Linked DNA regions of Homo sapiens. The protein of the gene in region 3 purifies or fractionates together with the protein of the main gene of each other region. This does not show direct contact. Each region holds a gene or a part of one and is shown on either strand. Other genes may lie near its edges.

Region 1 (3,396 bases), on a different chromosome or scaffold from region 3:
AGATCCACACTGGAACTGGACATAGATTACATTTCATCTTTACTCTGAGAAATACAAGACTACAGTTGAACACTCAGTTAACCTCAGACAGTAAAAGGGGCTAAAAAATTTTTTTAAATCAATTTATTGGCCGGGCACGGTGATTCACGCCTGTAATCCCAGCACTTTGGGAGGCTGAGGCAGGCAGATCACCTGAGGTCAGGAATTCGAGACCAGCCTGGCCAACATGGTGAAACCCCGTCTCTACTAACAATACAAAAATTAGCCAGGCGTGGTGGCACACACCTGTAATCCCAGCTACTTGGGAGGCTGAGGCAGGAGAATCGCTTGAACCCAGGAGGCGGAGGTTGCAGTGAGCCGAGATTGCGTCACTGCACTCCAGCCTGAGTGACAAGAGCAAAATATCATCTCATCTCAAAAAAAATTAAAGGACAGCAGACACTAATGAATGCTTCTTTCCCTCCCCTCTACTAAATCATACAGAAACTCAGACAGCATTGTGGGGTGGCTCAGATACTCCCAAGTGGCCTTTATTTCACAAAATTCTGTTTTTTTTTCTTTTTTTTGAGACAGTTTCACTCTTGTTGCCCAGGCTGGAGTACAATGGCGTGATCTCGGCTCACCCCAACCTCCGCCTCCCGAGTCTAAGCAATTCTCCTGCCTCAGCCTCCTGAGTAGCTGGGATAACAGGAGTGCGCCACCACACCCAGCTAATTTTGTATTTTTAGTAGAGATGGGGTTTCTCCATGTTGGTCAGGCTGGTCTAGAACTCCTGACCTCAGGTGATCCGCCGCCTCGGCCTCCCAAAGTGCTGGGATTACAGGCGTAAGCCACCGCACCTGGCCCACAGAAGTATTTTCATTAAAATTATTTTATCTACTTTTACTGTGTGATGCTATAAAATGAAAAACAATTGGCAAATTCACAAATTATGTTCTTCAAGTCATTTCTTCTCCTCTGAGGCTGAACGTGGTGGGCAGCATTAGTTCCCAAGCCTAGGCCAGTGAATTCTTACCGCTCTCACATTACACCTGAACTTGGACTTTCACATGAGGTCGGGCACCCATTATATCAAAGGTGCTTCTGAATCCTGTCATGTGGCCCAGGCAGAGGCTTAGATTTTATATGTCCTTGTGTGTGCAGTTTCCCCCAGCCCTTTACTGAATCAATAAGCCGGTCTCTGAAAACACTGGTCTATGTGAGATGAAGTCTATCATTAGCAAGGATGGAGCAATAAGATGTCAGCCAGAATTGTAGAAAATAAAAATGATGGGGCCTGGGTGCGGTGGCTCATGCCTGTAATACCAACACTTTGGGAGGCTGAGGTAGGTGGATCATGAGGCCAAGAGATCAAGACCATCCTGGCCAACATGGTGAAACTCCATCTCTACTAAAAATACAAAAAAAAATTAGCTGGGTGTGGTGGTGCTCACCTGTAATCCCAGCTTCTCAGGAGGCTGAGGCAGGAGAATCGCTTGAACCCTGGAGGTGGAGGTTGCAGTGAGCTGAGATCACGCCTCTGCACTCCAGCCTGGGCGTGGAGTGAGAGTGAGACTGTCTCAAAAAAAAAAAAAGAAAGAAAAACAAAACCATGGCAACTTCCACATGAGACTTACTTACATTAGGTCTTCTATTGTTACTTTAACAAATTGCCACAATTGTAGCGGCTTAAAACATAATGTTGTCATCTGACGGTTCTATAGGTCTTAAGTCCGCCTGGTCTCACTGAGCTAAAATTAAGGCATCAGCAGGGCTACGCTCCTTCTGGGAGGCTCTAGGGGAGAATCTACTTCCTTGCCTTTTCCAGCTTCTAGACAGCACACACATTCCTTGGCTTCTGACCCTTCCCTTCCCATCTTCAAAACCAGCAGTGTCTAGTCAAGTCTTTCTTAAGTCTCTTTGATGTGGACTCTTTTTTGCCTTCCTCTTCCACATTTAGGGATCTTTGTGATTCCTCCGGCCCACCCAGAAACACGGGATCCTCTTCCTGTTTTAAGGTCAGCTGATTAGCAAACTTAATTCCCTTTTGTTTCGTAACCTAACAAATACACAGGTTCTGAGGAGATGTGGTAGGAAGGGGTGTTATTCTGCCAACTTCTTTTGTGAGGACTGTGTCTATTTGGCAAATTTTTTTTTTTTTTTGGAATGGGGTCTTGCTCTGTCACCCAGGCTGGAACACAGTGGTGCAATCATGGCTCACTGCAGCCGTGATGGAGGGTGGTGCTCAAACCAATGTTAATTTACAAAGGATGGGAGCTCAGAGTGATTCTCCCAAGACAAGACTGCCAGAGGGTGGGGTCCTGCTCATCTGAGAGATGGTGATCTGCACTGGCAGAAAGCAAAAGGACAAGATTAAGTCCATTCTGAAGACACCCAGCATTGTGGTGTCTTGGCTGCCCAACCTCCACTGGTGAGACGTAAAGTTCTTATGTATATAGAAAAGCAATAAAGCTCCCCCTGTGCAAATGGAACTCCTAAGCCAGTGGTGATGTTGAGTTAGAAAGTCACAGCCTATTACAGACAGAATTTACACCAGGGGCAAGGCCTGACCATCACACCCTCATGAGAGCTACCAGTCACCAGGGCTTGGATGGGAGCAACACAGCGGACATATGATCACCTCTCCACAATCACCCAAAGACAGTTTTTTTTTGTTTGTTTTTGAGACAGAGTCTCATTCTGTTGCCCGGGGCTAGAGTGTGCAGTGGCACCATCCCAGCTCACTACAACCTCCACCTCCCGGGTTCAAGCGATTCTCCTGTCAGCCTCCTGAGTAGCCGGGATTACAAGCCCGTGACACCACACCCACCCAGCTAATTTTTGTATTTTTAGTAGAGACGGGGTTTCACCATGTTGGTCAGGCTGGTCTCGAACTCTTGACCTCGTGATCCGCCCACCTTGGCCTCCCAAAGTGCTGGGATTACAGGCGTGAGTCACCGCACCTGGCAGAGCACAACCTTTTTAACAGAGCTAAGGCAGGCCAACGTCAGGGTGACCTCTTGGCAAGATAAAAACTATGAGTAGTAAACGGCCGATTCCAGCTACTCAGGAGACTGAGGCACAAGAATCGCTTGAACCCAGGAAGCAGAGGTTACAATGAGCCGAGATCACGCCACCACACTCCAGCCTGCGCGACCGTGAGACTCCATCTCAAAAAAAAAGAAACGAACGGCTGGTTCCTGTTTACACCAGGCACATTCCTGTAGTGTTGCTCAAGGTCAGGAGGGATTTGTTTCTCCATCAAAGGAGGAGGTGCCCAGAAGGCACTCACTCAAATCCAGAACACTGCCTCTTGGGCTTTCCACGGCCTCTCCCATTATGTATCTCAAGGTTGAATCCAGGAAAGAAAGGCAGGACAAGTTCACGTCCTGAGGGAAGTGGCCCAAGTAGGTCCTT
Region 2 (3,500 bases), on a different chromosome or scaffold from region 3:
CAATGTATCAACATTCTAGTGTAATAAATGAATTTGGCTGGGCGCGGCAGCTCATGCCTGTAATCCCAGCACTTTGGGAGGTAGAGGCAGGCGGATCATGAGGTCAGGAGTTCGAGACTAGCCTGGCAACATGGTGAAACCTGGTCTCTGCTAAAAATACAAAAATTAGCCAAGTGTGGTGGTGTGTGCCTGTAATCCCAGCTACTAAGGAGGCTGAAGCAGGAGGATTGCTTGAACCTGGGAGGTGGAGGCTGCAGTGAGCCGAGATCACACCACTGCACTCCAGCCTGAGCAACAGAACAAGAGTCTGTCTCAAAAAAATAAATGAATTTGGACATTTCTTTGGAGCAATCAGATTTAGAATTACTACCTACTCATGAACTAACATCCTATCCATTTTTAAGACATGTAGTCTTTCTTAAGAAAATGACCTCCAAAATTTGACATTAAAGCTATAATACTGTCACTGACAAATTCAAAGATAAAATACTTTTTTTTTCTTTTTCTTTTGAGACAGAGTCTTGCTCTGTTGCCCAGGCTAGAGTGCAGTGGTGCAATCTCAGTTCACTGCAACCTCCGCCTCCCAGGTTCAAGTGATTCTCCTGCCTTAGTCTCCCTGAGTAGCTGGGACTACAGGTACACGCCACTACGCCTGGCTAATTTTTGTATTTTTTAGTAGAGACGGGGTTTCACTATGTTGGCCAAACTGGTCTCGAACTCATGACCTCAGGTGATCTGCCTGCCTCAGCCTCCCAAAGTGCTGGGATTACAGGCATGAGCCACCGTGCCAGGCCAGATAAAAGACTTTTTATGTGCTATAATGTGGGATATGAATCTCTGAAGCTCCAATACAATACAGAGGCATTCATAAGATTTTAATTAAATAGAGACATATTAAAAGATCATATTTCTTTTATGTTACTTTAATTTTTTGAGATGGAGTATCACTCTATGGTCTAGGCAGGAATGCACTGGCACAATCTCGGCTCACTGCAACCTCCACCTCCCGAGTTCAGGCGATTCTCCTCCCTCAGCCTCCTGAGTAGCCAGGACTACAAGCATACACCACCACACCTGGTTAATTTTTTGTATTTTTAGGAGAGACGGGGTTTTACCATGTTGGCCAGGCTCTCTTGAACTCCTGACCTCAGGTGATCCATCCACCTCGGCCTCCCAAAGTGCTGGGATTACAGGTGTGAGCGACCGCGCTCGACCGAAAGATCTTATTTCTTACATCAAAATTCAGTAATCTGGCTGGGTGCGGTAGCTCACGCCTATAATCACAGCACTTTGGGAGGACGAGGCAGGCGAATCACCTGAGGTCAGGAATTGGAGACAAGTCTGGTCAACATGGTGAAACCTCATCTCTACTAAAAATACAAAAATTAGCCAGCTGTGGTGCCGGGCTCCTGTAATCCAGCTACTCAGGAGGCTGAGGCACGGGAATCGCTTGAAGCCGGGAGGTGGAGGTTGCAGTGAGTTGAGATTGTGCCACTGCACTCCAGCCTGGGTGACAGAGTGAGAGACCCTGTCTCAGAAAAAAACAAAAACAACAAAAAAAACTGGCAGTGATGCAAACCATTTAAAACTGGGACTGTTGGCCGGGTTCAGTGGCTCACGCCTGTAATCCCAGCACTTTCGGAGGCCGAGGCAGGCAGATTACCTGAGGTCGGGACTTCAAGACCAGTCTCACCAATATGGTGAAACTCTGTTTCTACTAAAAATACAAAATTAGCCAGGCATGGGGGCGCATACCTGTAATCCCAGCTACTCGGGAGGCTGAGGCAGGAAACGCTTGTGGTGAGTCGAGATCACACCACTGCACTCCAGCCTGGGCAACAAGAGTGAAACTCTGTCTCAAAAAAAATAATAACAAAAAAAACCCCAAAAAACTGGGACTATCTCTGCAAGTGTGAGATATACATGGTCACCAGAGACATGCATGATTACAGCTGGAGGAATGGTTAAGAGCAAAAACCAGAGGGAGGCCAAGCATGTGTCTCCTGCCTGTAATCCCATGACTTTGGAAGGCTGAGGCGGGAGAATCACTTGAGCCCAGGAGTTTGAGACAGTCTGGACAACATTGTGAGACTCCATTTCTACAATTGGAAAAAAAAAAAAAAAGGCTGGGAGTGGTGGCTCATGCCTGTAATCCCAACACTTTGGGAGGCTGAGGCAGGCAGATCACCTGAAGTCAGGAGTTTGAGACCACCTTGGCCAACATGGTGAAACCCTGTCTCTACTAAAAATACAAAAAAATTAGTCGGGCGTGGTGGCCTGCGCCTATAATCCCAGCTACTCAGTAGGCTGGGACAGGAGAACTGCTTGAATCCAGGAGATGGAGGTTGCAGTGAGCCGAGATCACGCCACTGCACTCCAGCCTGGGCGACAGAGCGAGACTCCGTCTCGGAAAAAACAAAAAAGGCTGGGAGCAGTAGCTCACATCTGTAATCCCGGCACCTTGGGAGGCCAAGGCGGGCGGATCACCTGAGGCCAGGAGTTCAAGATCAGCCCGGCCAACGTGATGAAACCCTGTCTCTACTAAAAATACAAAAATTAGCCGGGCATGGTGGCGTAATTCCAGCTACTTGGGAGGCTGAGGCAGGAGAATTGCTTGAAACTGGGAGGCGGAGATTGCAGTGAGCCAATATCACACCACTGCACTCCAGCCTGGATGCGAAGAGTGAAACTCCGTCTCAAAACACACAAACAAACAAACAGGCCAGGCACGGTGGCTCACACCTGTGATCCCAGCACTTTGAGAGGCCAAGATGGGCAGGAGTTCAAGACCAGCCTGGCCAACATGGTGAAACCCCATCTCTACTAAAAATACAAAAAAATGGCCAGGCACTGTGGCTCATGCCTGTAATCCCAGCACTTTGGGAGGCCGAGGTGGGCAGATCACCTGAGGTCGGGAGTTCGAGACCAACCTGACCAACATGGAGAAACTCTGTCTCTACTAAAAACACAAAATTAGCTGGGCATGGTGGCACGTGCCTGTAATTTCAGCTTGGGAAGGCTGAGGCAGGTGAATCGCTTGAACCTGGGAAGCAGAGGTTGCGGCGAGCTGAGATTGCGCCATTGTACTCCAGCCTGGGGAACAAGAGCGAAACTCCATCTCAAAAAACAAAACAAAATGAAACAAAAATACAAAAAAATTAGCCGGGTGTGGTGGCAGGCACCTGTAATCCTAGCTACTTGCAAGGCTAAGGCAGGAGAATCGCTAGAACCCGGGAGGTGGAGGAGGCAGAGCAAGATTCCATCTCAAAACAACAACAACAACAACAACAACAAAAACACGCTGGACGCAGTGGCTTACGCCTGTAATCCCAGCACTTTCGGAGGCCAGGGTGGGTCACCTGAGGTCAGGAGTTCGAGACCAGCTGGGCCAGCAAGGTGTAACCCCGTCTCTACTAAAAATACAAAAATTAGCTGGGTGTGGTGGTGTGTGTCTGTAGTCCCAGCTACTCGGGAGGCTGAGGCAGGAGAATCGCTTGAAC
Region 3 (4,020 bases):
TCATCAGCTCCGTTGTTTTCCCTTCCAGTTCCAACTGAATCAGTAAAAAGCAGCGAGGTGTGGTGAATGGAACCCAGGATCCCTCTCAGGAGCCTCGGGAATCCGTTTCCTCTCCGCATCAGTGGCAGAGATGTCCCTGCCCCAACCGGTGGGTGTGCGGATTCTGTGCGGATTCGCACGGTGTTTGGCACGTGGTAAGCTCCGCAGATGTCAATATCATGACTGTGGTTGTTCCTGGCCTTGTACCCAAGTGACCTTGGGCAGGATACTAGGGTACTTTGCTTCTCTGGGCTTCAGTTTGTTTATTTCTAAAATTGGGGTATTAATAGAGTCTATTTCAGAGGGTACTTGTTAATTTAATAACTGTTCCACGCTGTATCCCCGGCACTTTGAACAGTGCCTGACGCATAGAATTTGCTTTAAAAAAATTTTTAAGACAAACTCATTCTTACAATGCATTGAATATCTACTGGCACCAAACGTTGGCCTCACATCAACTTAATTTTTTTTTCAGAAAGAAAGCACAGAAGGGTGTGTGGAAAAAGAAACTCAGTTTCCCTCACCGTACGAGAGGCTTCTGACAGCAGAAGTGTGGGGGTTTCTCCCCACCAGCAAGCAAACAATCAGTCCTCTGGTGAACACCAGCTGAGGGTCCCCAAATTCAATTCTGACACCACTATGGGTAGATAGTGGCCGATCCCACATGTTGAGGGTTCAGTCCCCCAGACTGCCAATCGAAAGCCCTAGGTTGTTTTACCTGTGTTTCTGACTGACTATAAACTGGGGTTCCCACAATTCCCTCCTGCAGTTTTACTAATTTGCTAGAGCAGCTCACAGAACTCAGGGAAACACTTTACTTACATATACTGGTTTCTTTCTTTAAAAAAAAAAAATTGATCTTGTTGTTGTTTTGAGACAGGGTCTCACTCTATTGCTCAGGCTGGAGTGCAGTGGCCCCATCTCAGCTCACTGAGACCTTCGCCTCCCAGGCTCAAGTGATCCTCCCACCTCAGCCTCCAGCATAGCTGGGACTACAGGTATGCACCACCACGCCCAACTAATTTTTTTTTTTTTTTTTGAGATGGGGTTTCACCATGTTGCCCAGGCTGATCTTGAACTCCTGAACTCACGCAATCTGCCTGCCTCAGCCTCCCAAAGTGCTGAGATTACAGGCATCAGCCACCATACCCAGCTACATTTACTGGTTCCTTATGGATATTACAAATGCTCCGGATGAAGAGATGCATAGGGCAAGGTATGGGAGAAAGGGCATGGAGTTTCCATTCCTCTCCAGAAGCACCACCCACTGGAGACCTCCTTGTATTCGGCTATCTGGAAGCTTGTCAAACCCTGTCCTTTTGTGTTTTTATGGAGGCTTCATTACATAGGCATGACTGATTAAATCACTGCCCATTGGTAATCAGCTTAACCTTCAGCCCCTCTCCCCTCCCCAGAGGAAATGCCAGCCATCAGTCAACTTATTAGACAGTTATCACTCAAAAGATATTTATCACTTTGAAGATTCCAAGGATTTTAGGAGTTGTATGCCAGGAACTGGGGGATGAAAAAATATATTTTACAATATCACAAGGGATAAAGGTCACACAGCAAATTGTGCAACATGGGTACACATTCAAGACAGTCAGAATTCATGAACCTATGCTCTTTCCTTTATACCACAAAACTGGAAAATGCATATGCCCTCAGACTCACCTCTAATATGATCTTTGTCAGATCAATGCTATTTTCTTAAGTTAAAAAGAAAAACAAGAAACTCCTCTCATGTATTGAGTACTTAGCACTTTATGGCACGCAGTCCACTTGTACCTATAACAACACCACGAAGTAGGTACCATTGTTATCAACCACATGTTATAGATAAGGAAACTGAAGCTCAGAGAGGTTAAGTAATATTCCCAAGGCTGCCTAGCCAGGTCATGGCAAAGTCAGGGTTTAAACCCACAATTGGCTAATACCCAAGCCCACATTTTTTTTTTTTTTTTTTTGAGATGGAGTCTTTCTCTGTCGCCCAGGCTGGAGTGCAGTGGCGCAATCTCATCTCACTGCAAGCTCCACCTCCCAGGTTCATGCCATTCTCCTGCCTGCCTCAGCCTCCCGAGTAGCTGAGACTACAGGCGCCCACCACCAAGCCCGGCTAATTTTTTTTGTATTTTTAGTAGAGACAGGGTTTCACTGTGTTAGCCAGGATGGTCTCGATCTCCTGACCTCGTGATCCGTGGGTCTCGGCCTCCCAAAGTGCTGGGATTACAGGCGTGAACCACCACGCCCGGCCACCAAGCCCACATTTTTAACAACCACTCCAGATGGCTTCATCTATCCTTAAAGATGAACTCACTGTCACATTGGATCCTATAATAAAGGGGATTCTAAAATCATCCAGTCCTTTGAGCAGCAAAGGCAACTTAACTTTCCTTTTACAGAGGAAGTAATTAAGGCTCCAAGAGGTGACAGTGTTAAGGCCACAGATCGCTGATATTGCACCTGTAAGCTGGGTCTCATGCCACTTGGGGTTTTGCATCCCATCTCCCTAAAAATCTCCAACCCATCCTCTTAGACAAGTCCCAGCCCAGAGCACTAAAAGGGACCCAGGAGTGCTGCCTCCCAGGAGAAGGGGCCTCCTGGCTCTCAGAACATGAGATTTACAGGCAGACAGGCAGCCTGGCAGAGGGTGGCAGCTTGATGCCCACACTTCATAGCTCCTGAGTTTACCTTGGAGGAGAGAAGAGAAGCAATCTTCAGCCCGGAGCCTGCTGATAGATGGGCACAGCAGCGAGTAAACGGTTCTCCGGCTGAAGGCTGGCTTTTTATCATCACTTGTGGATCCTCCCACGTCTCACCCTAGGCAGCCAATCCCTGTCGGAGTTTCTATTTCTGCACTCTGCAGTTTCATTTTCCCCTCTCTCCCAGCTCCTGCACTCTGCAGAGTTTCATTTTCCCCTCTCTCCCAGCTCCGCCCAGCGGGAACATTTGTGTGCTGCCTGCTGGCAGAAAAATGCACTTCAAGCTGAGGACTTTTGGAGCCGCTAAGGGTATTCAAAGCATGTCACACTATGATGAGAGCCACGGCCATACTGGGCTTAGTGAAGCCTGATCACCAGCTCCCCCTGGGGCACACAGGCCTTTCACCATTCAGTCCAATTAGTAAACAACACCTATCATTTATTGAGCACTTGCTGCATGCCAGGGTCTGTGCAAAGTGCTCTATTTACATGATCTTTTTCCAATCCCACAGTAGTCATGTGACATACCATATGCTGTTTATAAACCCCCAGAACTTTGGAAATTAAGTCACTTTGTTCCATTGTTCTCTCAGGCTGGCTGCTTCTGGGTCATGGGCATATGGTAAGACCAGTGAAGCCTGTGTTCATGTGGCCATCATGATAGATCTTGAGTTTCAAGATGGGTCCCCTGGCCCTAGGTAATGAACTGAGCATTCTTTAAAGCCTTTGGATGGTGATGCTTGAAGTGCTATGGGTCAGAAATGCAACCTCTATTTGGAGAACATAGAAATTCCAGTAAGGATGAATCATTGCCTTCTCCCAAGTGGAAGGGGTCTGAAATAATTGACCTGCCACCAGATGGCTGGCTATTCTCATTGAGAAATTTTGCCATATTGCTACCTGCTGCTGGCAGATTGGCTATATTTTGGCAATTGCCAGATCAGTTTTGGTGAGAGGGAGCCCAAGTTGTTGGACTCATTTCTAACCCCCATCCTTACCACCTTGGACACTCATAGGTCTATTGCAAGGCAATAGTGAGGCTAAGTTTAGAGGCTGGCTGACATCCACAGGATGGGACATCCTGGCCATTGGGCTGTAGAGCCTCCTCTGCAGCAGATGATCTCTGGTCAGCATTAACATGAGACATAGAGATCCAGGTGCTTTATGCCCATTCAGAGTTCATTCTTATGCCCCTAACCCACACCTGCTTATTCCCAATCTTCCAATCTTGTTCCATCCATGCCTTTGACCAACCAGCCAAGCCATTTGCCTCTTATTA
Region 4 (2,965 bases), on a different chromosome or scaffold from region 3:
TCTCCTGGAGGGGGAGGAGAGCCTCAAAAATTAGGATAGCCTGTCTTCAGTATTTCTCATGGCCATTAATACAAAACAGATGAATGGTTTTGCGTGTAAAGATGCAGAAAATTTAGACAACTGAAAAGAGACGCTCTAATGGATAGAAATAGCTTTGGAGAAATGTCAGTGAAGTGACAGGCTCCTCATAAAATGAGGCATTAGAAATGATACATAGAGTTCAACAAGTCAGGATTCTACGCTTACTATACTTAGAAAATTGAAAAAATACAAACCACTGAAAATTCTTAAGATACTGCTAAATCCAGGACAGGTGGTGATACAAAAAAAAAAAAAAAAAAGCTATGGACACATACTAGCACAGTAAATGAATACGGAGATTACTTAGGGTAGAAATAGTCTGATTTGCTGCATCTTCATAAGGGAAACTGAAGTAGGTAAAATCTCATACTACAAACCCCTTCCCCAATTTAAAGCATTAAAGAGTCCTCACACCAAGCTAATTTAAAGGTTTAGTTTATACAATTGATAATTCTGCAAACCACAATATGTCAATAACTACATACTGTAATAAAAATAAACAAAGTCATACTTAATTCTATAATGCATTAAGAATAACCTAAAAAAACAAATTGTGAATAAAGGCATATTTAATAAATTAGGGAACATCTTAACTTCTAATAGACTGGGGGAAATTTTTAAGTTTTCTATGTACACAAAGGCAGTGGGAACAAATGAAAAAAACAAATTACTACATTGTTGCAGCACATTAAAGACTGGATGGTGTATATTATTCACAATTACATCCTCTTTCCCATAGCCTGGCAGAGGAAAGTAGTTACCAAGCACAGGAACAATTTCAACATCTCACTGGAGTCTCCAAAAGCAAGCAGATACTGCAGGATGTCATTAAGCAACTTACTGTCACTTCACACCATATGTGGCAGTAAGAAACTTAAAAAAAAAATTAAAAGGCACGCATAAGCTGATTTCAAATATTTTAAGTCCAGGCTACTCTCTTTAGATACAATGTTTTGAACACTTGTATAGAACAGTTTTTAAATAAACATTTCCAAAAACTTGAATACAGAACTTAGGAACCATGAATCTTCACCAAAAAAAGTTACATTGAAAAAAAAAAAAATTCATGAAATAATTACAGCTAACCTATATTTAGAGATAAAATATTTTTTGGCAACCTATATTCTTTAGGAAAATAAAATGTTTGATTTTAGAGTAAGTAGTATGTTTACTAAAAGTTCTCACTATATTTCATGCCTATTTAAAATTCTACCTTTAAAGATCTTTAAACTGATTTTATATTGTTCCTTACCACAATTAGACTCATTGAAGAGCTCAAAACTAAAGCAACAGCATTTTTCCTAGCATGCACACACAAAATAATCTACCATTTAGTCATCTCTTTAGCTTATGTTTTCAATTTTTAAGAATAATCAAACTGTCTAAAAAATATTGGGCAAAAATAAAAATATTTTCTCTACTTGATGACATGTTTATGCATCTCAGGTAGCATTTTAGATCAATATCCTTTTCTTGAATGTTTTAATACCAGTATACTTAAACATATGTTAAGAGTAAATGAGGCAGATTCTAGTGTATAAAATGAAAGCCATTCATAAGATTTCACATGCAAAAAAAAAAAAAAAATTCATAAAGTTCAAATGTGTTTGTCCTAAAAATAAACGTGCAAGTACACTACACAATGAAAATGACTCGACCATCTTAGCCTTTTTTTGACAGTATAAAGCTAAGTTCTTTCTGATGGCCCACTCTGAAAACGATCTCAGATTCCATAATTTAAAAGCATTTTTCTAGCCTTTATTAAGTATACTTTGTGATAATACTTATATCCTAAAACAGAGGCACAGGTTTGAGAATTTAAATCTTCTGGATGTTGTTAGTCTTTCTTAAAGGTAACACTGATGCCATTTGCTCTATCAGCATAAAGTTGATATTTGTAAAAATAGCCATTAAATACTAATTCACAAGTATATTTAATGTACATATAAACCCTATGTTAAAAGTATAAACAAGAGGAAATATAGTTCTAAGACTTCTAAATGGTTGACCATCAAAAAGTGAACCACCCTCTTTAAGACTTAACATAACATTAAAAAAAATTGCTTCAACATATGAATTTAAGACTTTACTTTATTCAGCAAAATCATTTATTTACACAATGGGGAATGCTGGTTTGATTTTGTCAATGAAATAAAAACAAAATGAACAGAGACAATACTGAACTGTATATATACTTTGTATCAGAGTTGACCAACTGTTTCCTTACCTGTATCAGGAACATCAAGAGCAACAGTATCACAAGGACACTGGTTTAACAATACACCACATAGGTCCAGTAATACCCTGGGAATTTCCCAATGCAATCACCAACTTTTTCTTTTTTTATAAATATATAAAAAAACAAAAAGTCAGCAAAACCAGCATTATGATGTAGCAAACAGAGTATAACTCTGAAGTCAGTGGGGTCAGTAAAAGCCTTATCAGACCATCCATAGTTTTACAATGTGATCTGCTCTTCCTCAGACCACTAATATAGAATCCAAACAGGTGAAAAATACGTCACTCCTTAGAATACAACAATGATCTGATAAGGATTTGACTTAGTGGAAGGAAAAAAAAAAAAAAAAAGGGAATTGCAGAGCATAGCCCCTATTAGAACAAGCTAACTTTCCAGATTTTACAAATTAAAAAAACAAAAACAAAAACAAAAAACCACTTCAACATGAAGCTACCATACAAAGTTTTTCCATTTTTCTTTGTAAAAAGTTCAGAGTTTGCAATTTAATCCTGGGTTTTTAATGAGAAGGACAGTTTTGGCCTGGACTTCCCCTTGCCCAGGATAATTTTTTGTTCTTCTTTTTGTTGACGTTGTCGTTCTTGTTCTAGTTTCATCCTTTCCTCATGAATCTTTCTTTGTTCTTCA

What was found.
Region 1: the proteins of IFI6 (region 3) and KNOP1 purify together in Homo sapiens (affinity purification with mass spectrometry; one large-scale study listed by BioGRID and IntAct). This does not show direct contact.
Region 2: the proteins of IFI6 (region 3) and CDK12 purify together in Homo sapiens (affinity purification with mass spectrometry; one large-scale study listed by BioGRID and IntAct). This does not show direct contact.
Region 4: the proteins of IFI6 (region 3) and ARGLU1 purify together in Homo sapiens (affinity purification with mass spectrometry; one large-scale study listed by BioGRID and IntAct). This does not show direct contact.

What each region holds. Positions count from the first base shown.
Region 1 is NC_000016.10:19,701,437-19,704,832, forward strand, and holds the end of KNOP1 (lysine-rich nucleolar protein 1), read right to left. Parts: 3' UTR 501-3,396; downstream 1-500.
Region 2 is NC_000017.11:39,520,486-39,523,985, reverse strand, and holds part of CDK12 (cyclin-dependent kinase 12), read right to left. Parts: intron 1-3,500. UniProt on the Homo sapiens protein: Cyclin-dependent kinase that phosphorylates the C-terminal domain (CTD) of the large subunit of RNA polymerase II (POLR2A), thereby acting as a key regulator of transcription elongation.
Region 3 is NC_000001.11:27,669,393-27,673,412, forward strand, and holds the start of IFI6 (interferon alpha-inducible protein 6 isoform a precursor), read right to left. Parts: upstream 2,801-4,020; 5' UTR 2,731-2,800; intron 1-2,730.
Region 4 is NC_000013.11:106,541,173-106,544,137, forward strand, and holds the end of ARGLU1 (arginine and glutamate-rich protein 1), read right to left. Parts: coding exon 2,824-2,965; 3' UTR 501-2,823; downstream 1-500. UniProt on the Homo sapiens protein: Dual function regulator of gene expression; regulator of transcription and modulator of alternative splicing. General coactivator of nuclear receptor-induced gene expression, including genes activated by the glucocorticoid receptor NR3C1.